Linked DNA regions of Homo sapiens. The protein of the gene in region 1 interacts with the protein of each later gene in a biochemical or structural test. Each region holds a gene or a part of one and is shown in the gene's direction. Other genes may lie near its edges.

Region 1 (3,500 bases):
CTTTCTGGAGTGTTTGGGTAAAATCTCCCTCAGAGTCAAAAATATGATACTTGAATCAAAACTGTGGATGTTTTTGAGGCTCTGTTGAGTTAGTGGGTAGCATAAAGAAGGATGTTAAGCTTAGAGACAAGATGTTGATTTTGAACTTACGGAGAAAGGTTTGTTCCGGTGTTGGAGCCCTGCTTGGAACTTTTACCAACCTCAGTGCCAGCCTTGAGAACAGCAAAGGATGGTCTGGCCCAGAAGCTGCCCTAGATAGTTTCCCTGGCCTCAGACCCAGCCTGGCCTCAGCTGAGGCCTTAGGGAAGCTTGCTGTCTCTCCTTGCCCCGAAATTAACCCTCAGTGGCCCTTACTGAACGCTTTTGCTGTTCCTGGGTCAACCATAAAACTCCTCCCATTGGAAGCTGTTTAAGAACTTGTTTATTTCATTGGGCCGGCTCTCTGCTCCTGCTGGGTACTGTTTATTCTCTTCTAAAAGGCAGAAGGATTTATATGTCCTGGAAACTCTCATGTGCAACATTTTTATTTTCTTTTTAAAATAAGCCCTAATGTTTGCTTCTCTGTTATAAGCTGAAGGAGATTAGAAACACTCAGATTTTCAGTACCAGCTCTTCAGCAGCCTAGAACTTGCACAAATGATGTGGCATTCTTTAAATTATCTTAGGTTTCAGTTTTTTTGACACCTGCTGAACGCTTAGGGTTTGTTAGTGCTGTACCAGCATAGACGTTGTCTCTTCTGTTCTACCATGTGAGCTATATTAAGGATTCTCAAGCCTTAGCGTGATTGGAGTCACTGGAGAGCTTAACACAGATTCCTCAGTCTCACCCCTAGAGATTCTGATCCATTAGGGCTGGCCAGGGGCCTGATATTCTGCATTTCCAATGAGCTCCCAGATGATGCTGGTCCTTTAAGTAGCCGCTAAGCTAGACGAAGAGCTTACGCTCAGGTAGATATAGACCAAACATGTATTGGTCTTCACACAGTTATGGTTTCACTGGTCATTGTCTAAACACCTTCCTAAATTTCTTAAGACCAGGATAAAATTTTAAAACCCAGACTGCCTAGGCCGGGCTCAGTGGCTCACGCCTGTAATCCCAGCACTTTGGGAGGCCGAGGCAGGCGGATCACGAGATCAGGAGATCGAGACCATCCTGGCTAACACGGTGAAACCCCGTCTCTACTAAAAATACAAAAAATTAGCTGGGCGCGGTGGCGGGCACCTGTAGTCCCAGCTACTCGGGAGGCTGAGGCAGGAGAATGGCGTGAACCTGGGAAGCGGAGCTTGCAGTAAGCGGAGATAGTGCCACTGCACTCCGGCCTGGGTGAAAGAGCAAGACTCCGTCTCAAAAAAAAAAAAACAAAAAAAACCCAGACTGCCTAGCAGTTAAATGACAGGTAATCATAGCCTAGACAGGCATCTCTGATCTCACTGAGGCCACATCTGAGCTGCAGCAGACTTGGGATTGCTACACTTGAGTGAGTTAAAGAGTTCTGCTCCCAGCCTCAGTTTCCCATCCTGACTTACCCCCTGATTCTTAGAGCAAAAGCACTCCAGAGCAAACATCTTTTTTGCTTTTCTTTCTGGGAAAGGAACAATTCTGGACATAACTTTCCTTGGATTGATTGAAAAACTTGAGATACATCCTCGATACCTTTTGTTCTTTAACCTCCCATCCGGTCTGTCTTTGAATCCTGCGGATTTTACCTCCTAAATACATTTTGAATCTATTCACAGCTCTCCAGCTCACTCAAATGACCACCGTGGTCCAAACCAGAGTTTCTGAATCAGCACTGCCAACATTTTGGAATGGATAATTCTTGGGTGTGGGTGTGTTGTTGGTGGTGGTGGTAGTGGTGATGGGGGTGGGAGGCTGACCTGTGCATTGTAGGATGTTTAGCAACATCCCGGGCATCTACCTACCTACCTACTAGAGGCTAGTAGCGCTTTCCAAGTAGTATCAACAGTATTTGTGGACATTGCCAAACGTCCCTTGAGGGGCAAAATTGGCCTTTGTCTCAGACACTCTTGCCTGGACCATAACTCTTTCCTCTACAAATCTTCTTGCTCCTCTTCAATTCCTTCTTTACCTAGCATCAGGAATTAATCTCTTATAAATGTGTATCTTTTATCACTCTCCCTCAAGCCTCCTATGCTGTCCCATTTCTCTTGGTTGGCTATAAGGTCCAACATGCTCTGGATCCTACCGGCTTCCACCTGCCTGGATTCTTCTCCCCTTCATCCTCTTCTTTCAGCTTCTCATGTCTCTGAGAGTCGATGCATGTGCCCCTGAGCTCCTCTCTGCCTCCAGGCCTTTGCACTTGCTCTTCTGTCTACCTGGAACAATCTTACCAAGTACTCTGCACTAAATAACCTGCAAAATTTCCACTTCTCTCCTCTTGCCCACAGCCTTTCTGTCTGCACTTAGGATTTGCTTATCACTAGACAATGGTTCTTTCTATTCTCATCTCAGCTGAAGCATCACTACCTCTAGGAAGCCAGGCCTCTCGGACCTCGCAGACTACATCTGGTGCCCTGAGACTCTTACTTTGGTTATCCTCCTGCATGGCATTTATCATAGCTGTAACTAAATAAGTGGAAGAGTCTGTCTTGTCCAGTACCATGTCTGTGGCACTAATCCATTGCCATGTGCACTGTAAGCTCTTGATATGTATTCATTTGGTGATGAGTTCAAGATTGAAAGGCCTGTCTTGGCAGTCATCAAAACTTTTCAGGTTGCTAACCAAAAGTGGGCTCGTGTTTAAAAAGAATGAGTTTCTCCGTGATGACCCAGTTAACAAAATTGTTTTCAGGTTTAGGGGAGGCATTATTTTTGTTCCACTAGATCCACCCAGATCAAGTTTTATAAAGCCCCAAATCCTAGAAACTATTTTGTCCTTTTCAGAACTGGAAATAAGTAAATCTGATAGACAATTGTATCAAAAGGTGTTCCAGATGTCCAAACACTTTGAAATGTATCTGTTAGAGTATTCACCATGAAGTATATTTTGTTTCTGAAAAGCTCCTGCACAGGGCCATTCCATAGTATATCTAACAAAACAGCGCACTTCTGCTAAAAAAAAGTTACAGATTGTCACTTCTATTTCATTTCTGTGATTTATAAGGAAAATTAGGATTTGTTTTACAAATATGTTACCCAGCTACACTGGATTAAATGAGTATAACCAGACAATTTGAATTGGCAATTCTGTTGAGATTTGTCTGTAAGTGGCTCTTTCTGTGTTCAGAAATGGTGCTTGCCTCGCTATAAAAATATTTGATGAGTAAGAATCTATTTATAAGGCAATTATGCATTGGACCGTAGACCAAGGAGCTTAAAAGAAAAGAAAATAATATTCATTGAGTTCCACTGGGTGCCATACACTTAAGGTGCTTTCTGTATGTGCATACATTATCTTCTCCATGTTCTTCATTAGATAGACCTCTTTTTTTAATGGGAGTAGCAGATTATGAAAGATTAAGGCTAGAAGTTAGATTCT
Region 2 (3,500 bases), on another chromosome or scaffold:
TTGAGGTTTAAACATTATTATTTAACAGTTCGGTTAGAGTTGATGCCAGGTTGCATTTTACAGATGCTTAAACATTGATTAATTTTGATTAATTTTGCTACTTTCTTTTCATATCTTGGGGCCAATCATTTTTTTCTGGGTCTCAAATATTTTCAAAGGCTCTTAGAAAGCTTGCAAACACAGGCACTATGCCTATAGTGACTGATAAATAAAGTAGCTCTTGGCCCGGTGCGGTGGCTCATACCTGTAATCCAAGCACTTAGGGAGGCCAAGGAAGGCGGATCACAAGGTCAGGAGATTGAGACCATCCTGGCTAACACAGTGAAACCCCGTCTCTACTAAAAATACAAAAATTATCTCGGTATGGTAGCACGTGCCTGTAATTGCAGCTACTCGGGAGGCTGAGGCAGGAGAATTACTTGAACCTGGGAGGCAGAGATTGCAGTGAGCCGAGATTGCACCACCGTACTCCAGCCTGGGCAACAGGAGCAAAACTCCGTCTCAAAAAAAAAAAAATAGCTCTCAGTTGACCTGGTGTTTAGAAAATAAAGGGGTAGGCTTTCACTTCCAAGCTGTCATGGTTGCTGCTGATCTCTTCCTAGTCCAAGTTAGAAGTAGGCTCTCTCTCTTTGCATGGCATTTAGAGAGATGCAGAAAACTTTGCCAAGGTTGGGAAGGCTCATGCTTAGAGTCCTACTTCCCTAGAGACACTATGCAGCCACCTACCTTCTATAATGTCTTGTCACCTGCTTGGGGCACCATTGCAGTACAGGTACAAGGCTCCCCACTGCTTTTGAGGCCCACAGACCTCTCTCTCCTTCTTAGTCCAGAAAGCTCTCCACCCTTTCTCTTCTTGCTCTCAAAGCCTTCCTCCCTCTCTTCCCTCACCCACCCCAGGATACTTCCCAATATATTTTGGACTTTTCAAAATCCAGGCAAAATCGTTGACTTCAATCTACTTCTGCTCTGTGTGTGGCAAAAACTGTGGGTGAAGGAAGCACAAAATGGTCTACTTGTTTTAGGGGAGTTACTCATATTACAATAAATTATTATTCCACAAAGGAATTGATTCAAAACCTGCCTCTACCATTTACCAGTTCTGTGACTTTTTTTTTTTTTTTTTTTTTTGGAGACAGAGAGAGTCTTGCTCTGTCACCCAGACTGGAGTGCAGTAGCGCGACCCTGGCTCACTGCAACCTCTGTCTCCTGGGACCAAGCAATTCTCCTGCCTCAGTCTCCCAAGTAGCTGGGACTACAGGCACTTGCCACCATGCCCAGCTATATATATATATATATTTTTTTTTTTTTCTTTTTTTTTTACAGATGGGGTTTCACCATGTGGGCCAGGCTGGTCTTGAACTCCTGACGTCAAGTGATCTGCCCGCCTCAACCTTCCAAAGTGCTGGGATTCCAGGCATGAGCCACTGCACCCGGCCTAATTCTATGACTTTGAACAAGCACTCTAACCCCTCAAACCTCCTGGTTCCTCACCTGTGAAATGAGGACAATCATACCTACTTTTTGAGATTGTTGAGAAGGTTTAATTAAGGGGATGACACACATAAAGTTCAAGGCACCATTGCTGGGACGTATTGGAAGTATATAAATGTTCATTCTTATTCCCTGTGTTTGCATTTCCTACAGATAAAACTGTGGGTGTACCAATAGAGCCCATTATTGCTGCATGTGTTGTGATCTTTCTGACATTGTGCTTTGGACTGATTGCTAGAAGAAAGAAAATAATGAAGGTATCTAAGTATTCTGAGCTATTTAAGTAAAAAGCCATCATCTGAATAAAGGCAGAAAGCTAGAAATATAAGTGACTTCAGTTAGGAACCCTTCTTGGCAAAGTCAAATCTGGTCTTTATACCATGAGATCTAAAATACAGTTGCTCAAGGGAATAAAAATTATATGTACATTATGAGTACAGATTTACAAAGAAGAGAAGTGCACATGGGCAAAGCCTGAATTGAAAATAGCTGTGTTGCCAGGGGTAGGCAATTGGGGGCTGATTTTCCTCCTTTTAAATTGCCCTTTATTGTTGCTATGATACCTGTGGTATAATAAATAAATATAGGGAGGAACATCCGCTCTAGATTCAGAGATCTGCATGGAAAAGATGGCATTGGCTGCTCACTTCTGGACTATAGCCACATGCCCTGGCTGTAGTGGACTGGTGTTTGAATTATAAAGTGGTTATCCTCGTTGGTTGGTATGATTCAGAATACGTGCATGCTTAGGTTAATGCCATGCATTTGACTCTGCCAGCTAATTCAGTGCCAAAGGAGAGCAAAAAAGGCAGAAAGCCCTAGGCTGAGTTCATCATTCAGCAAGGGGCATTCTCCTTGGAACACATAGCAACAGGGCAGCCATGTCTCTCAAGAAGAAATTCACTCCACCCCCTATTCCAATCCCAAGCATATTTTAGTTGTTGTTGTTTCTTTTCTTTCTTTCTTTCTGTCTTCCTTTCTTTCTTTTTTTATTTTTTTGAGATAGAGTTTTACTCTCTCTCCCAGGCTGGAGTGCAGTGCCTTGATCACAGCTCACTGTAGCCTCAACCTCCTGGGCTCAAGTGATCCTCCCACCTCAGCCTCCCTAGTAGCTGGGACCACAGGCATGCACCACCGTGCCCGGCTAATTTCTGTATTTTTTGTAGACAGGGTTTTGCCATGTTGCCCAGGCTGGTCTCGAACTCCTGAGCTCAAGTGATCTGCCTGCCTCAGCCTCCCAAAGCACTAGGATTACAGGCATGAGCCACCACACCCAGCCACAAAGCATTTTTTTCTTTTTTTTTTTTGAGATGGATTCTTGCTCTGTCACCCTGGCTGGAGTGCAGTGGCGTGATCTCAGCTCACTGCAAGCTCCACCTCCCAGGTTCACACCATTCTCCTGCCTCAGCCTCCAGAGTAACTGGGACTACAGGCATGTGGCACCATGCCTGGCTGTTTTTTTGTATTTTTAGTAGAGACAGGGTTTCACCATGTTGGCCAGGCTGGTCTTGAAATCCTGACCTCAAATGATCCATCTGCCTTGGCCTCCCAAAGTTCTGGGATTACAGGTGTGAGCCACTGCACTCGGCCGCATTTTTTTTTCTATAAAAAAGTAAATACTCAAGTATCTAAGACACTGGAAGCATCTTAACTAAGAGTTACATCTTCTTTGAGTTTAATAAAAACTACTAGTGTGGCCCCAAAAATGACGCCTGAGCCAGTGCAGAGGTGTGCACAGGACACACACCTGTCCTCGAGCCATCTTAATGCATTCAAAATATTTCTCCATGGGCCTTAAAAAGCAGGCTAATTTACTGCCATGTTTGCTTTTAGCTCTGCATGAAGGATAAAGACCCTCACAGTGAAACAGCTCTGTAAGTACTCTAGGCCGGGACCAGTGCTTTTTAAATAAGCAGATGAATAGCAGTGATATGCATCACTCTAGACAAACTCCAGAGATGGGAGGTGCTGGAAGGGGAAGGGGTTCAAAGGAGAATAGAAGGTGGAGG
Region 3 (3,500 bases), on another chromosome or scaffold:
ATGCACATCTTATCATTTGTCAATGAAAAATGCACATTTTATCATTTCTGAAATAGAGTTGTGTCTTATACCTTATGGTATGTTATAGTTTAATTGGCATATTTTTCTTAGTGGTACGCCGTATAATCATTGGCACCTTGGGTTTGCTGAAATGGTCATTTAAGGCTTACTTTGTATCAGGCACTGTTGTAAGTACAGAACTTCACATAATTAACTAATGTAATTCTCACAACACCTTGTGATATAGTTACTATTTTTAATCCCATTTTACAGATGGGGGACTGAGACCCAGAGAGATAAGTAACTTGCACATGGTCACCAGTAAGTGGTAGAGCCAGGATTTGAACCCAGACATCTGTATATAACTATTAGCTATACTAGGAACCTAGGCCCAGGAAAGAGCAAGAGAGGGCTGCCTTGTCAGGAAGGAGACCCTTAGGGGAGAGTCTTGGGAGTCTGGGCCTGGAGAGGGTCATTTATGTACAGTGCTGAAGACCCTTTTCTCTGTGTTTCAGTTGGAGAAGATCGGGGAGGACTCTAAGCAAGCCCTGCAGCAGCTCCAGGCCCAGCTGGAGGATTATAAGGAAAAGGCCCGGCGGGAGGTGGCAGATGCCCAGCGCCAGGCCAAGGATTGGGCCAGTGAGGCTGAGAAGACCTCTGGAGGACTGAGCCGACTTCAGGATGAGGTAGAAGTCTAATATCCTTGGGTTTGAAGGTCCTTGCCTCTTTTTTTTTTTTTTTTTTTTTGTCCGAGACAGAGTCTCACTCTGTCGCCCAGGCTGGAGTTCAGTGGCGCGATCTTGGCTCACTGCAAGCTCTGCCTCCGGGGTTCACACCATTCTCCTGCCTCAGCCTCACAAGTAGCTGGGACTACAGGTGCCTGCCACCACGCCTGGCTAATTTTTTATATTTTCAGTAGAGACGGGGTTTCACCGTGTTAGCCAGGATGGTCTCAATCTCCTGACCTCGTGATCCGCCCTCCTCGGCCTCCCAAAATGCTAGGATAACAGGCATGAGCCACTGCGCCCAGCCCGGTCCTTGCCTCTTAACTGAACCTGTGGCCAAGGGTCCCTGGGGCCCAGGTTTAGGTCTAATGACTTGCAGGGTGGAGGAATATATTGTCTGTAGAGCAGTGATTTTCAAATTCTGTAGCTTAGAGCCACCTGAGGAGATTTTTAAAAATCCCCACACCCAGGCTGTATCCCATACCACTTCAGTCATCATCTCTGGGGATGGGATCCAGGATCAGAATTTAAAAAAACTCCTCAGGTGATTCCAAGTTGTGTAGAGACTTTAAAAACAATAAAGAAGCTGAGGACGGTGGCTCACGCCTGTAATCCCAGCACGTTGGGAGGCTGAGGCGGGCAGATCATGAGGTCAGGTGTTCAAGACCAGCCTGGCCAACATGGTGAAACCTTGTCTTTACTAAAAATACAAAAATTAGCTGAGCGTGGTGGTGCATGCCTGTAGTCCCAGCTACTCAGGAGGCTGAGGCAGGAGAATTGCTTGAACCTGGGAGGTGGAGGTTGCAGTGAGCCGCGATTGTGCCACTGCATTCCAGCCTGGGCGACAGAGCAAGACTCCATCTCAAAAAACAAAAACAAAAACAATAAAGGAAATTAATGAGGGCAGGTGCAGTGGCTCTTGCCTGTAATCCCAGCACTTTGGGAGGCTGTGGCGGGCAGATCACGAGGTCAGGAGATTGAGACCATCTTGGCTAACACGGTGAAACCCCGTCTCTACTAAAAATACAAAAAATTAGCCAAGCGTGGTGGCACATGCCTGTAGTCCCAGCTACTCGGGAGGCCGAGGCAGGAGAATCACTTGAACCTGGGAGGTGGAGATTGCTGTAAGCTGAGATCGCACCACTGTACTCCAGCCTGGGCGACAGAGCGAGACTCCATCTAAAAAATGAAAAAAAAAGAAAATGGATGAAAAGTCAGTTTGCTTTTTATTGTCATCATGCCACTGGTAATTCTAAAGAGTGACAGTGATGAAATGTTTCTGCCCACTGGGCTGGACTGCTCCTGCCCCTCAACCCTCACCTTCTCACTACACTGAGCTGTGGCATTTTTACCCCCTGCCCAGATCCAGAGGCTGCGGCAGGCCCTGCAGGCATCCCAGGCTGAGCGGGACACAGCCCGGCTGGACAAAGAGCTACTGGCCCAGCGACTGCAGGGGCTGGAGCAAGAGGCAGAGAACAAGAAGCGTTCCCAGGACGACAGGGCCCGGCAGCTGAAGGGTCTCGAGGTGAGGGCACTGAGGTGTGACCTGTGGAAAAAGGGTGGGACTTCCAAGCCTCTTTCTGTACTAGCGGTCAAAACCGACAGCCCACAGTTGATGAGTTTTGTTTGGCTGCAGTATTTTCAACAACTTTGAATCAATTGCCAATGTTTAGAAATTTATAGAGGTCACCTAAAAATTTGGATTTCTAGTTTCTTTTGTATTTGGCAGATATGGTAATACTGAGTGTCTTGTCCTGAGTCTGCATGGCAACAGTTGGCTGGAGCTGAGCAGTGGGTTTCCCCTTTAGAGTGAACAGTATTCTTCAGTTTGCTATATTTGATAATAATAATAGCAGCAGCAAACATATTGTGCTGTGTGATAGGCACTTAAGACTTAATCCTCAGAATAACTCTGTGGGGTAGGTAGTCTTGTTTTCTCCATTTTACAGATGAAGGAAACTGAGGCACAGAGAGATGAACTTGTCCATGGTCTACTGCCAGGAAGTGGTAAATCTGATTTTCAGACTGGACAGTCTGGTCCCATGTACATACTCTTAGCCTCTACGTGGTACTGCCTCCAGTACCTCAGTTTCTGAGTCTCTTCACCTCAGCCTTGGCCCAGGTACTTGGGTTTCTCTCTCTTTTCCCATTAGAGAAATAAGGTTTTCCAATGAAGAGTAGATTCTGGGGTTTGCCTTTCTGTCAAAGGGCCGTCACCAGAGCATGGCCCCGACCTGCCCATGATGCCACATCTGGTCAGTAGAGGGCGCTGGCTCCATAGTGGCTCTGGGTCCAGGCAAGTACCAAAAGGTTACTGGGATGTGCAAGAGAGAAAAGTCTGTTAATGCTGGAGTTTGAGAGGCTCCTGGTCTGAGTTTGGCATTCTGGTGTCCAGCATTTGGGACAGAATTACTTGTTCTTCTGTCCTAGGAAAAAGTCTCACGGCTGGAAACAGAGTTAGATGAGGAGAAGAACACCGTGGAGCTGCTAACAGATCGGGTGAATCGTGGCCGGGACCAGGTAACCGCCCCCACCCCTCATCTCTGTTTACCCCTGACTGCATCACCTCTTGGTTCTCTCAAAAACAACTCTACCCTCCCATCTTTCATCATCTGGCTGCCGAATCTGTGCGTGGCTGGGTCTCCTTCAGGGTTTTGTCTGCTTTGGGAAAGGTTGGCCAGTTTCCTTGGGTGGAAAGAAGCCAATGATTTGCATGGAGGAAGGGATCCTGGTGGCCTGGGCTGTTCTCTGACCTGAATTGGGGCTTCTTTGGTT
Region 4 (3,500 bases), on another chromosome or scaffold:
CAGGCCCCCCACGCCAGCCAGCCCCCGTGCCCGTGCCCACAGCCACGAAGAGGCCAGCCGACCTGCAGCCACTTCCACCCGGCTCTTCACTGACCCGCTGGCACTGCTGGGGCTGCCAGCAGAGGAACCAGAGCCTGCCTTCCCACCAGTGCTTGAGCCTCGATGGTTTGCCCACTATGACGTGCAAAGCCTGCTCTTTGATTGGGCTCCGAGGTCTCAGGGGATGGGGAGCCACTCAGAGGCCAGCTCTGGGACCCTGGCTTCAGCCGAGGACCAGGCTGCCAGCTCGGACCTGCTGCATGGGGCACCTGGCTTTGTGTGTGAGCTCGGGGGTGAGGGTGAGCTAGGCCTGGGTGGACCAGCATCCCCACCTGTGCCCCCTGCACTGCCCAACGCGGCCGTGTCCATCCTGGAGGAGCCACAGAACCGAACCTCGGCCTACAGCCTGGAGCACGCAGACCTGGGTGCTGGCTACTACCGCAAATACTTCTATGGCAAAGGTGAGGAAAGGCAGTTCCAGGGAGTGGAGGAGGGGGGCTGAAGAAGAGGTCCCTGTCACCTGCAGTGCACACAGTAGGGCTCATGAACTGTCCATTTCCTGTAAAGTCCCTGGCCCTGGGAGGGCTCAAGAGCTGAGCTGGGGTCCTCCTGGACCTACTTTCAACCACCTTCTTAAGGCTAATCCCTGGCTCCTCACCCCCAGCCAGGGCTGGTCCCTCTGCCTCCGTATTGGTTCATCCTCCATCTGGTTCAACCTGCCAGGCTGGGGAGAGATTCCCTATGGGCTTTTCTGTGGGGTGAAAACTCAGGCCTCAAATCCCTGCATCCGTGAACCTTGTTCGCACCAGCACTGCGGAGAGAGGGCTCCAGGACATAGAAGGGAGAATGAGGGCGTGGTGGGTGGAGCCAAGGCAGGATTTAGGCCTGGGAGCTGGCCGCGTGGGTCTAGGTCTGGGTCTGGGTCCACCTCTGGGTCAGGGTTGAGATCAAGATATTGAGCTCGGGGCTACAGAGGGGCGGGACTTAGTCTAGGGTCAACATTTGGTGGTGAGATGAAGCCTAGGGCGGGGCTTAGTGATGCGCGTGGTCGAGCGGGGGCGGGGCTGCCAGAGGGCGGGACCAATCGTTTTCTTCGGCGCGGTCCCCCAGAACATCAGAACTTCTTCGGGATGGACGAGTCGCTGGGCCCGGTGGCAGTGAGCCTGCGGCGGGAGGAGAAGGAGGGCAGCGGAGGGGGCACCCTGCACAGCTACCGCGTCATCGTGCGGACCACGCAGGTGGGCCGGGATCGCGGGATCAGGACGTGGGTTGCCTCCCCGACACCTTGTATGCATCCTGAGTGCCCTTACACCCCTTCCTCAGCTCCGGACACTCCGTGGCACCATCTCGGAGGACGCGCTGCCGCCGGGGCCCCCACGGGGTCTGTCCCCAAGGAAACTTCTGGAGCACGTGGCGCCGCAGCTGAGCCCCAGCTGCCTGCGCCTGGGCTCAGCTTCACCCAAGGTACCACGGACGCTGCTCACACTGGATGAGCAAGTGGTGAGTGGCGGGCCGCGGAGCCCCCAGCCATACAGCTGGCCCCAGTCTGAACCCAGCCTGCCCAGCTCCCAAACCCCTAGCCTTGACCCTGATCCTGGGCTGGGTGGTGACCCCAGAAGAGCTGGCTTTTCAGAGACAGGGCATCAGAGTTCATCTGGAGCCTTGCGTCTCAAAGTGAGCTCTGTAGACCAGCAGTATCCACATCATGTAGAAATGCAGATTCTGGGGCCCCACCCCAGACCATCTGAATCAGAGTTTGCACTTTATTTATTTATTTATTTATTTATTTATTTTGAGATGGAGTCTCGCTCTGTCACCCAGGCTGGAGTGCAATGGTGGAATCTCAGCTCACTGCAACCTCTGCCTTCCGGGTTCAAGAGATTCTCCTGCCTCAGCCTCCTGAGTAGCTGGGATTACAGGTGCATGCCACCACGCCCAGCTAATTTTTGTATTTGTAGTAGAGATGGGGGTTTTACCATGTTGGCCACGCTGGTTTTGAACTCCTGACCTTGTGATCTGCCCACCTCGGCCTCCCAAAGTGCTGGGATTACAGGCATGAGCCACTGCCCTTGGCCCAGAGTCTGCATTTTAAAAAGATATTTGCAGCCCTAGATGCCCTGGTCTGACTCACCCCACTGGTCCTGCAGTTCCCGCATCATTCCTGGCCAATTTCCCCCACAGCCCCTGCTGGGTTTCCTCTAACATGTGGTGCTCACAGCTTCCTGGAGCGGCTCCTTCCATCCCCCACTCCATGCTGAAAGCTGCCCATTGGCTGAGTCTTCTCCTCTGTATCATTCAACCCATCAGTCATTCAACAAACATTTCTTAGACCTTTTTGGTGCCAGGCCTCAGACTGGATGCTGGGGACAGGTCTAGACCAGGTGCTTTGCTTGAGTAGCTCACAGCTGGGTGGGAGAAAGAGACCCACAGAGAACTGCTGAAACACAGGAGCAGTACTGGAACACTGAAAGGGAATGTTGAGGGCTGCCTGGGCCACGACGGTAGTGATGAGAGCCCTTCCTTGGCCAGGGTTTTCCAGCATGGAGAACACAAAAGGGCTCAGGCCCGGATAAGCAGGTGTTTTCTGGTCAGAAGGAATAACTTGTGCAAAGGCTTGGAGAATGAGAGCATGGCACATTAGGCAGTCAGTTCAGCGTGGCTGGGGTTGGGATTGTGGGGAGGGGCGGGGGAGAAGCTTGCATTTGTTCCCGTGGACACTGGGGAGCCATGGAGGGATACGGTGCAGATCTGAGAGGGGCAGCTCTCTGGCTGCAGCATGGGGACTAGACTGTACGGGGCGGGGATGCCAGGCTGAAGGCTATTGCAGTTGCCCAGGCTAGACACAGTGGCAGCGATAGTGGAGGTGAAGAGGAGGTGACAGTCCAGGAAGGACTGGGTAGTCATGTGGCTGACTGGAAGGGGTGAAGTGCTAGGATTTCCCAGCTTCTTGGCCCCCAGGAGTGGTGGTTTAAGGAGGAGGAGCAGGGTGGGGGAGTCACAGCAAGGTGAGACATTAGGCAGCCGGAGAAAAAGGCCCGGGGTTTGGTAGGCCGGTCTGAATGGGAGGCGGAGATGGGGGTGTCATCCTTGCTGCAGCCAGGGAGGGGGAGGAGCATGGGTGGAGAAGAGGCCCAGGCAGAAGAGGGCGGGGTTCCTGGGGCCCTAGGCAAGGTGAGTTTCCAGCTATCCCCAGTGCCACCTATGGCTGAGAGGGTACCAGGATGAGGCCACATCTGGGGACCATATGGGGAGTGGGGGGTGCAGGGGGTTGGGAGGAATGAAATCGAAGTGGGGACTGTAAGTGCAGACAAGTTTAGTTGTAGAAAAGGGAGGTGACCGCTGGAGGGGAGCCTGTGCTGTTTGGAGGAGTTCAGAGCACCTTGAGCTGGGCATGGTTATCCAGTTATCCGCAGAGGGAAGAGCCGGGAAGAGGGCACAGAAATGGGAGCATGGGGGGCAGA
Region 5 (3,500 bases), on another chromosome or scaffold:
TTACAACAAACTTTCCCAGAGCATACAGCTGGACTTCACTTTGTAATAACTTAAGCAGTTATTGTATATACTACATCAGCATAAAAAATCCATAAAAGCATCTTTTATCTCCCCTTCTTTTTAGCATTAAGTACAGTAGTAGGCATATAGTAGGTCTTCGGCAGGTGCAGATTAGCAATAGAATAACTACCTATTCTCATTTATGTTTCGTATTGTATTTGTAAATATGGTAAATTGTTCTTTTCTTACAACTCTTTAAATTTGGTGAATATATAAGGAATAAGGAACGTCAAAAGAAGCAGTAACAGAGTGGCAATTGCACCATAGTATTCTACAGTTGGAAGACCATTTGCCCCATCATTGCCACTCTGGTTCTTGGACCTCTGAGAGTGCACCCCCAATGAAGCACACCATTTCCTGCAGCAGGTCATTCTACCTTATCATTGTGGAATGAACTTCTTTGCTTCAGGCAGAAAAGGCTCCCCAAAGGAAACCAGCCTTTGGTCAATGTCACCTTTGCTTCTAGACTTCACACAGTTAATGATCACATACCATCACGCTCTACCCTCCTCATTTGCTGGGAGTTTTCCAAGTTCTGTTTCTATCTTTCTGACTACCCTTTCTGTCTTCCTTTTTGATTCTGGTCCTTCTGTATAGGGGTCTTCTCTGGCCTGCTCTTCTGGCTCTATTCACTTTACTAGTATGTAATTCACTAGTTTATGTCCAAATACCCCTGACATTTACCAGATCCCTATAAAGACTGTTATAGCTCCTGAATTTTGGACGCATATTTCCATCTACCTCGGGGCATCTCTGCCCACATGTTTCCAGGCTCCTAAAACTTGGCTGGGGAAATGCTAAGCTCATGTTCTATGTGACGCCTTCCTTTTAGGAAATATCACTATTTTCCTCTTATATAGGCTCCTTCCAAACAGGTAAATACCTTTATAAGGATACTGTCAGTTATTTGTGACAAGTCTCATACACACATTAGGAATCCTTTTCTAGAACACTAGCATAAATTAACCTGTACTGAATATGCCTGTTGGGTGTTATGTGCCCAAGTTTCAAAAGGCATCCTGCCATGGGAATATCTGCTTCTCATGAGGAGGATTAACGTGTGTGTATACAAGCCACAGCTAATGCATAATTAAGATGTTGATTATTTATCATGTTTTAGCTCTAAAATCTTTATATAATTCCCCAAAGCATTACACTGAAATGTTCTTTCCTTAAAGGCTACGTATTTTAAAAATGCCAAAAAAGTGTCCTAATCTTATTTGAAAGCTCTTCCGTTGAGATAGCCTTTGCCAAGAACATATTCTTCAAATAAGATGTGCTCTTTTAGCTGAAGATTACATTTAGGACAAAATATCTAGAAAAAGTTAATACTTTGTCAAGGCAACTTTAGAATTTGAGTAACCAGTTTCTCCTCCTTGGGGACTCCTGTTCTTGCCTCAGATATTTCTGGTTTCAAAACAGGGTGCCAAGGCAGACCTCTCTTCTCTGCTGATTTTTGTGTGTGTGTGTGTGATACTTTCAGAATAAGATTATCCTGGACCCCATGACGTTCAGCGAGGCCAGGTTCCGGCCGTCCCTGGAGGAGAGGCTGGAGAGCATCATCAGCGGCGCAGCGCTGATGGCCGACTCCTCCTGCACGCGAGACGACCGGCGCGAGAGGATCGTGGCGGAGTGCAACGCCGTGCGGCAGGCGCTCCAGGACCTGCTCAGCGAGTACATGAATAATGTAAGTCTTGGGATCTCCATTCTCATGTCTTGGTGGATTCTGTTCTGCAATCGTGTTGCTCTTTTGGAAGCATAGATAGCAGGAAAAGAGAACAGACCAGGTGTTTACCAAAGAGAGTCAGGTGAAACCAAAGAACTGCTTTGGGAGAGCGCGTGTCGTGTGTGTTGTTTCTGAATCCATTTTTTGTTTGTTTGTTTTAATATGGAACAGGTGGATGGAGAATAAGCTCTTTCACTTTTTACTTGGCTGATTTCTTCTCGGTCATTTTAGTGGCTGCATTTTGAAGTAGGTAAGATTTCAATTGGTAAAGGTAGATGATTGATGGAAACAGCTGAGGATATAGTAAGTCCTCTGTTACAAAGAGCACTTTTAAACCTAAGGATAGCTGTAGATGCGAATCTTCACCCCTAAGAGGCATTAATAAATCTACTAGGTTTAAAAAACGTGTGGATAGGGTTGTTTAAGGAAAAGTTCTAAATGTAGTAAAATTTGGAGGTGTTTTATTGATTCATAGTCAGGAATTGCTTATAAGAGTGAGTCTCTTAAGTTTTCAAATAGGTATGTATGACTGGTATCTAATTGTATTTTGGCACATAATAGCCATCCTCTCCTATAGTTGTAAAATGTGACAGTTTCTGTGTACCTGTAACCTGCAAGAAGGTGATGAAACTCATATTCTTTGCCTTGAAAGGCACTAAATTATGGCTGTATTGATTTGCTACATTCATTCAGCAGAGGCGATGCTTGCAACAGTGGATGATCTGTGCTTCCCCCTTTCCTGGACTTTCGGGTTTGAGATAATTTAGCACAAATTGGGGAAAAATGTAGATAAAGTGAGGTCTCGATATTACATTTTGAAGGAATGCCCTGTATAGCTACCAGGTGGGTAACAGAGACACTGAAAATCTGCTCACAGCTACTGAAGTCCATGTTAGGTATTATTAGAACACCCCGAGGCAATGCTGAAACAAAGCAGCCATTCAGTGTCTCTCCCTCCAGCATCTTACCACTCCCATCATGAGTAAAAATATGTAGCTAACAGACATGCAAGCAAGGAATGAGTGTTGACAGTAGCAGTGCTCCTCCTGCTGACCCTCCAGAGAACTCACTGAGAAAGCAAAAAGATGTCAATGAGAAAACCTAACAAACTAAAAAAAACAAAATTTGTTTCCTTTCCATGAACCTTCAGATTCTTTGATTTTGGAAGACTTGGCCTTTTTCAGCACACAAAGAATAAAATGTGGATGCATCATGTGGCACCCAGCTGCTTATGAGGACGTCTCTATAGGACCCTGGATGACCAACACTTTCTGTAATTTTGATCCATGGTATTACGTAGGGTGCAGCTAGAAATGTTGACCCCACAGTCTCCCAGCTGAGTGAATCTTTTGAATAGCAGATGTGTCAACGAAGAATGCTTATGAAATCTGAGACGCTGTTTGTTTGTTCGTTGTTGTTGTTAACAAAATAGCAAAGGGCTAATTACATGGATGTGGAATTTGGTTTTACATTAAGGCACGCTAGTGGTTCTATTAATGAATAGTTACTGCCAAAGAAGGAAGTAGAAACTACAGAGATCACAGTGATGGTTAAGATCTCAATATAAATAAATCAGACAAAAAAGTATGTTCTTCTAAATAGAAATCACAGAACGTGACTAAATAAGAGTTGATCAACACGTGACATGTAATTTTCAGTTTGGTGTCTAGAATCCTGCCAACTAGAAGTTTTTCTTTCAGTGTAATCTCATGCA
Region 6 (3,500 bases), on another chromosome or scaffold:
GGGACTATTTCACGAAAATGAATGTATTGTAAAAATCAACAATGTGGATCTCGTAGACAAAACCTTTGCTCAGTAAGCATTTTTTCATTGTTTTATTTACTTTCTTGATCCCTAGCATGGTTATAAGCATTACTGAACTCATTATGATCAAAATAGTAGGTAGAATTTCTAGTCAGTTCCCTTTGAACGATCCAGGATATCCATTTTCGAATGCTTCTAATGTTTTAGCCTACTCAAAGGTGGCCCACACATGTCTCTGGCAGGTCTGAGAATGCTAAACTACAGAATATCACAAGCCTTCCTGCCTGGCTGTCTTTACTGGGGCGTCGTTGAACGGGTTTGTTTTTCTTGGGCTATGGGTCACTTAAACTGGTATTTAACGGCTCTTTTCACAGACTGTTGGTTCAGCTTATTAATTAACTTTCTTGGTGTCAGCAGTCTTCCTTAAACTAAAAAATCTGTGAGAGATGTCTGAGGACTCACCGAATCATAGAAACAAACAGAAAAAATAAAATACCGTCTCCTGGCCAGGCGGAGTGGTTCATGCCTGTAATCCCAGCATTTTGGGGGGCCGAGGAGGGCAGATCATGAGGTCAGGAGTTCAAGACCAACTGGCCAATATGGTGAAACCCCATCTCTACTAAAGGTACGAGAAAAATTAGCCAGGCGTGGTGGTACGCGCCTGTAATCCCAGCTACTTGGGAGGCTGAGGCAGGAGAATCGCTTGAACCTGGGGGACAGAGGTTGCGGTGAGCCGAGATCGCGCCTTTGCACTCCACCCTGGGTGACAGGGAGAAACTCCGTCTTCAAAATAAATAAATAAATAATACTGTCTCCCTCAAGAAATCATCTTTCTGCATGTGAAAATGTTAAGGGAATAGCTTCCTGTACCCAGGAATTAGAGTGTATAGTAATCTGATGCATATTTTTTTAATGTGTGTTGGCATTGCAGTGGGATTCTGGACCAAAGGACTAAGTACTAATAATCCTTGGGAGTCATCACCACCCTCTTGTTTCTGACCAAAACAGCTCCTAATACATCTTCTCGCTGGGCATTAGTTGTCAATATTGTATGCGTGTTTGTGGACAAAGATGAGTGGTTGTGGGTCGAGGAAAAGTGGGTACTGGCTGCTAAGTATGAAAAGAAATGAAACCTTAGAAGAATCTATTGTGTTAAAATAATGAATGATAGACAAAACTATAGTTAGTAATAATTTTTAATATACTACTGTGCTTTTTCACAAGGACTTGATAATTATGCAAAGCAATCATTATTACTTCTGTTTTATAGAGGTGGAAACTGAGGCTCATAAAAATTTAGTATAGAGTTAGTATGGAGTAGAAACTGATTCCTATGCAAGCAAAAATAACATAGGGGAACTGACCACAGGAGTTAGGTGGAGTTAGGCCTATGTGAAATCTTCCTTCTCCCCTAACAATTTGCAGAATTAAGCACTTCAGAAAGGGGGGTGCGGGGTAGGGTTTAAGGAATCAGATTGCAGTTGGGATTATGATTAGTTATTATGTGCTGTGGCTGCTAGGAACAGAGACCTGAAATAAGAATAGCTGAAACAAGATTAACATTAATTTTTCCTAGCAACAAGCAAACGTGGAAGAGGGCACTCCACAGTTAGTGCGGCAGCTGCACAGCCGCCAGTGGGTCAGGCAGCTTCCGTTTTCTGCTTTGCCATCTCGCCATGTGGCTACTATCCTTCAGTGGAAAAATGGGCACAAGATGGCTGCTGAGTTTCCTCAGTCACTTCTGAGTTTCAAGAAATAGGGAAGAGAAACAGGAGAACAATAAAAGTTTTTGTCTCTCTACTGAACCAGCCGCTTCTAAAGAGCTTTCCTTTAACGCCTTCATTTATATCTTCTGGGCAAGAAAGAGTGGGAAAGGTAGTTGTTTGACCTGGGCACAGGGCATCTAGAGGCATGAGGAAGAAGAAAATGTTATAAGAAGTTTGAGGAAGAACACAAAGTGTTAGGTCATAAAAGTGAAAAACACAGTTGCTCTGTGTGAGAGTAACAGGAAGGGTGCATGTTGGATTGAAATTCCACTGAGACATTTTGGCACAGCCAAAGCACCTGCCAAAATGTCTCCATGAGCAAACATGGATGTCAAACTTGAACTTGTGTAACACAACCCATGTTAGAGAAGATCTGTACTTTAGAAGGATGTCCTAAAAGAAACCTAACTAATGATCTGATCCAAAATATCTATTTTGCTTTTTATATTCACTTTGGTAATCACTTCTGGTTAGATTTTCATCTTTAGAAACATGTAAAAGCTGTGGGTCATTGGATAAATTATTTCATCTCTCTGAGCCTCAACTTCCATGTCCGTGAAATGAAAGCTATTTATACTTACCGAATGTGCTTTCTAAATTAGAGAAGGATGCATGCTAATAATGCATGTATAAGCTAGTGCAGGGGCACCTAGTGCAAATAGTAAGTGGTAACTAGTATGTAGTTGGCAAAGTCATTCTGATAGGAATATTGATCGTGTCTCCTATGATTAGCCACTGTGCTGCTCTTGGTTGCCATCCTCCTGGGGTACTTTAGAAGATGCTGCACCTCAAAGCAGGGTCATCATACATTTATCAACTTTCTTTCCAGGGCTCAAGATGTCTTCCGCCAGGCAATGAAATCTCCAAGTGTGCTCCTCCACGTGCTTCCTCCACAAAACCGTGAACAGTATGAAAAGTCAGTCATTGGCTCTCTTAACATTTTTGGTAATAATGATGGCGTTTTGAAAACCAAAGTGCCGCCTCCTGTCCATGGAAAATCGGGACTAAAGACAGCAAATCTCACAGGAACCGATAGTCCTGAAACAGATGCATCAGCTTCCCTGCAACAAAACAAGAGTCCCCGAGTACCAAGGCTGGGAGGAAAACCATCCTCTCCCTCACTCTCGCCTCTCATGGGATTTGGCAGCAATAAAAATGCAAAGAAAATTAAGATTGACCTAAAGAAAGGTAATTATTAAATTATGCCTAATAGCATTCTATTATTGTAACATGTAAAATTGGTTAAGAGAAATGCATTAAGGCTAATTTAGTTAATTCTCCCTTCATTTAATTGTATCAAAGAATAGATTTAAGTGTATACTTAGGTAACTTAAATTTCTTGAAATTGTACTTTTTTATTCTTTTCTTCGGAGTGTATAGATTATTTTAAACAAGAAAATAATAAAGACATGTTGGGAAGTGGAAAGAATCATTGCAAACCTGATATCAACAGAGCAATATTGTATTACAACTTAATACCAAATAGGCATGAAAATTCAGTTGTCCCTGTTCTGAGCACGATTAGTGATTCTTGAAGCATCCTTTAGGCCATGTCCAAAAAGCATATTGTTTTTCTAAGACAGTCTTCTAACAACAAAAATTTACTCCTCAGAAAGCAAATATGTAATGTTTACTAATTTCTCTGATTCAACGTCACAAACATTTAAAACATACCTAATTTCAAAAGCATGTATAATATTTTCTTTCTTCATC
Region 7 (3,500 bases), on another chromosome or scaffold:
GAGACAGAGTCTCACTCTGTTGCCCAGGCTGTAGTGCAGTGGTGCGATCCCAGCTTGCTGCAATCTCTGCCTCCTGGGCTCAAGGGATCCTCCCACCTCAGCCTGCCGAGTAGCTGGGACCACAGGCTACACGCCACCACACCTGGCTAATTTTTGTAGATATAGGGTTTCACCATGTTCCCCACACTGGTCTCGAACTCCTGAGCTCAAGCGATCCACCCACCTTGGCCTCCCAAAGTGCTGGGATTATAGGCATGAGCCACTGCACCCAGCCAGATTACTGATTTTATATCTTTCTTCTTTACGAATATATGCATTCAGTGCTATAAATTTTCTTCTCAGCTGTTCTTTTGTTGCGTCCCACAAATTTTGATAAGTTGTGTTTCCATTTTTATTTAGTTCAAAATATTTTAAAATTTCTCTTGAGACTTTTTTCTTTGACCCATGTGTTATTTGGAAGTGTGTTTTTAAATCTCTGCATGTTTTGGGATTTTCCAATTATCGTTCTGTTTTTGACTTCTAGTTTAATTCCACTGAGGGGAAGACATTGTATGCATGATTTCTATTTTAAATTTGTTATGGCGTGTTTTATGGCTCAGAATGTGGTCCATCTTGGTGAATGCTTTATGTGAGTTTGAAAAGAATGTGTATTCTGTTTTTTTTTCTTTTTTTGGATGAAATAAGTGTAGGTGTCAGTTATAGCCAGTTGATTGATGGTGTTGTTGAGCTGAACTGCGTCCTTACTGGTTTTCTGACTGCTGCATCTGTCCTTATAGAATGGTATTGAGGTCTCAAGCTATGATAGTGGATTTATCTATTTCTTCTTGCAGTTCTGTCAGCTTTTGTCTTACATATTTTGATTCTCCTTTCTTAGATATATAAATGTTTAGGATTATTATGTCTCCTTAGAGAATCAGCTCCTTTGTTGTTATGTAATGCCCCCCTTTAATATATATATATTATATATATATAATAATTAATATAGTTACTCCCCCTCTCTTTTGATTGGTGTTGGTATAGCTTTCTCCATTCATTTACTTTTAATCTACGTGTGTCTTTTTATGTAAGGTGGGTTTCTTGTAGATAACATACAATTAGCTCTTATTTTTTGATCATCTCTGACATCTCTTTTAATTGATATCTTTAGAACACTGACGCTCAAAGGGATAATTGGTTTTGATGGATTAATATCTATCGTATTTGTTACTGTTTTCTATTTGTTGCTTGATTTTTGTTCCTATTTTTGTCTTCTACTCTTCTTTTTGTCTTTTATGCTTTTATTGAGCATTTTTTTATGATTCCATTTTCTCACCTTTCTTAGCATATCAGTTGTACTTTTTTTTAAACTGTTTTTTTTGAGTGGTTGCCCTAGGGTTTGCAATATGCATTTATAACTAATCCAAGCCCACTTTCAAGTAATACTATATCACTTCTCAGGTAGTTTATCTTATAATAGCAAAATAATCCTAATTCCTCTCTCCCGTCCCTTGTATCATTGTTGTTACTAATTTCATTTACATTTATAAGCATACATAATATGTACATTATACACACACACACACACCCCCCACCACACACACACACACACACACAGACACACACACACATATATAAGCTTACGTAATCAAGGAGTGGCCACTTCCAAAGTGTTTACATATATGTAGAACCAGAAACCAGCAGTCCTTTTATTTATTTTGAGTTCTATTCCAGATTTTTCCAGTGGAAATACATATTTGGAGTGAGAAACATCATAACAGTAGCATGTTTTTATAAAATAGACTTTTATAAGTTATTCAAAAGAGTTAGCAACTACTGTCTAATAATATAAGTTCCTCTAGAGCCCAGTAAAGATATCTGTTTTTAAAAATAGCAAATTGAACCACCAAAATAAATAATACAGGATTTTCTTTTTCAAAGTGAAAGGTCAGATGCCATCAGGGAGCCAGCAGCAGTGTAGTGCTTTGATCATTTGGATTTGCATCCAGATCTGAATCTTTTCACATTCAGAGCCTCTAATCTTGGCAAGTTAGTCACTCAACCCAGTTTGTTCTTTTTAGAACAGATATGGTAGTGTCTATCCCACAGTGTCATTCTGAGGATCAGCTGCTGTAATTTATGTGTAGTCACTTGGTAAATTGTGAAGCACTCGCTCTTATTTTAAGTGGAAGCACAACTGGCAGCAAGGACTTTGAATGTCTTCTGTTCCTATTAGATGACTTTCTATCACGCTTTCTAAGAAATATGTTTAAGCTTCTTGGATCTTCCTTCAGTGCTTTCTATACCTTCCTTTGCAATACAGGTTCTTAAATGTGAAGTGGAATTGATGGCCAGGATGGCAAAAACCATTGACAGCTTCACTCAGAATCAGACAAGGCTGGTGGTCATCATCGATGGATTAGATGCCTGTGAGCAGGACAAAGTCCTTCAGATGCTGGACACTGTACGTTTGCGCCACCTCAAAAGCCACCATTGTTATGTTGTGGCACTTGAGAGAATGTTTGACTTCACAAATATCTAAAAATAGAACGGAATTGGTTTTTGTTTGAGTAGTTCCTATTTTGTGATTTTTCTTTTGTAAAAACAACCATTCTTTATACAGAAATGTAGCAAGAATAAATGTTTAGTCACAAAGATATTTAAATAATTTTAGCTTAGTGGCACTGTGAGAAAAATGAATAGAGCATCTGTATTCATGAATGTTTCTCATGTGCATTGATTTACCTCTTTAGCAGACTGTAAATGTCTGAAAGAAGGACAATATTAATTTTCTTTGCAGGTTTTATCTATGTCAGATGACAACAAACCTAGATTGAGCTGTCAGTAAAATTTGCTTTTGTGCAGAGTAAGTTTTGATGAAAAGAAATAGTAGTTTAGAAATATTGTCACCAAAAGGTAGCACATATTTTGAAGAGATGCCTTATTCTTTTGGACAATTTAAAATGTATGTCACAACTGTACATTTCTTCTGCCACAGGTCCGAGTTCTGTTTTCAAAAGGCCCGTTCATTGCCATTTTTGCAAGTGATCCACATATTATCATAAAGGCAATTAACCAGAACCTCAATAGTGTGCTTCGGGATTCAAATATAAATGGCCATGACTACATGCGCAACATAGTCCACTTGCCTGTGTTCCTTAATAGTCGTGGACTAAGCAATGCAAGAAAATTTCTCGTAACTTCAGCAACAAATGGAGACGTTCCATGCTCAGATACTACAGGTAAAGCTCAGGCTCCTAAAGTACTTTGAGTTTGAAATAGTTTTGTAGTTTCTTTATGGCGACTCTCCTTTTTACCTTGAAAAATATTGTTGTTGTTTCACATTTCTTTAAATATCATATACAACAGAATTTTGGTGTAAGTGATGCTGTCTTGATAAATTATTTAAGGGATACAGGAAGATGCTGACAGAAGAGTTTCACAGAACAGCCTTGGGGAGATGACAAAACTTGGTAGCAAGACAGCCCTCAATAGACGGGTAAGATGCCATTGGCTTCGAGCTG

The links.
Region 2: the proteins of PDZRN3 (region 1) and TMIGD1 interact in a test that uses a peptide from one of them, tested with the Homo sapiens proteins (one large-scale study listed by IntAct).
Region 3: the proteins of PDZRN3 (region 1) and CGN interact in a test that uses a peptide from one of them, tested with the Homo sapiens proteins (one large-scale study listed by IntAct).
Region 4: the proteins of PDZRN3 (region 1) and SIPA1 interact in a test that uses a peptide from one of them, tested with the Homo sapiens proteins (one large-scale study listed by IntAct).
Region 5: the proteins of PDZRN3 (region 1) and CTNNA2 interact in a test that uses a peptide from one of them, tested with the Homo sapiens proteins (one large-scale study listed by IntAct).
Region 6: the proteins of PDZRN3 (region 1) and PARD3B interact in a test that uses a peptide from one of them, tested with the Homo sapiens proteins (one large-scale study listed by IntAct).
Region 7: the proteins of PDZRN3 (region 1) and KIDINS220 interact in a test that uses a peptide from one of them, tested with the Homo sapiens proteins (one large-scale study listed by IntAct).

The regions. Positions count from the first base shown.
Region 1 is NC_000003.12:73,618,442-73,621,941, reverse strand, and holds part of PDZRN3 (E3 ubiquitin-protein ligase PDZRN3), read left to right. Parts: intron 1-3,500. UniProt on the Homo sapiens protein: E3 ubiquitin-protein ligase. Plays an important role in regulating the surface level of MUSK on myotubes. Mediates the ubiquitination of MUSK, promoting its endocytosis and lysosomal degradation. Might contribute to terminal myogenic differentiation.
Region 2 is NC_000017.11:30,317,058-30,320,557, reverse strand, and holds part of TMIGD1 (transmembrane and immunoglobulin domain-containing protein 1 isoform 1 precursor), read left to right. Parts: intron 1-1,644; coding exon 1,645-1,748; intron 1,749-3,324; coding exon 3,325-3,365; intron 3,366-3,500. UniProt on the Homo sapiens protein: May control cell-cell adhesion, cell migration and proliferation, cell morphology, and protects renal epithelial cells from oxidative cell injury to promote cell survival.
Region 3 is NC_000001.11:151,531,887-151,535,386, forward strand, and holds part of CGN (cingulin), read left to right. Parts: intron 1-515; coding exon 516-686; intron 687-2,088; coding exon 2,089-2,250; intron 2,251-3,155; coding exon 3,156-3,245; intron 3,246-3,500. UniProt on the Homo sapiens protein: Probably plays a role in the formation and regulation of the tight junction (TJ) paracellular permeability barrier.
Region 4 is NC_000011.10:65,641,101-65,644,600, forward strand, and holds part of SIPA1 (signal-induced proliferation-associated protein 1), read left to right. Parts: coding exon 1-500; intron 501-1,149; coding exon 1,150-1,277; intron 1,278-1,362; coding exon 1,363-1,539; intron 1,540-3,500. UniProt on the Homo sapiens protein: GTPase activator for the nuclear Ras-related regulatory proteins Rap1 and Rap2 in vitro, converting them to the putatively inactive GDP-bound state. Affects cell cycle progression.
Region 5 is NC_000002.12:79,908,051-79,911,550, forward strand, and holds part of CTNNA2 (catenin alpha-2), read left to right. Parts: intron 1-1,543; coding exon 1,544-1,747; intron 1,748-3,500. UniProt on the Homo sapiens protein: May function as a linker between cadherin adhesion receptors and the cytoskeleton to regulate cell-cell adhesion and differentiation in the nervous system. Required for proper regulation of cortical neuronal migration and neurite growth.
Region 6 is NC_000002.12:205,118,975-205,122,474, forward strand, and holds part of PARD3B (partitioning defective 3 homolog B), read left to right. Parts: coding exon 1-72; intron 73-2,616; coding exon 2,617-2,975; intron 2,976-3,500. UniProt on the Homo sapiens protein: Putative adapter protein involved in asymmetrical cell division and cell polarization processes. May play a role in the formation of epithelial tight junctions.
Region 7 is NC_000002.12:8,778,614-8,782,113, reverse strand, and holds part of KIDINS220 (kinase D-interacting substrate of 220 kDa), read left to right. Parts: intron 1-2,299; coding exon 2,300-2,440; intron 2,441-2,974; coding exon 2,975-3,218; intron 3,219-3,386; coding exon 3,387-3,475; intron 3,476-3,500. UniProt on the Homo sapiens protein: Promotes a prolonged MAP-kinase signaling by neurotrophins through activation of a Rap1-dependent mechanism. Provides a docking site for the CRKL-C3G complex, resulting in Rap1-dependent sustained ERK activation.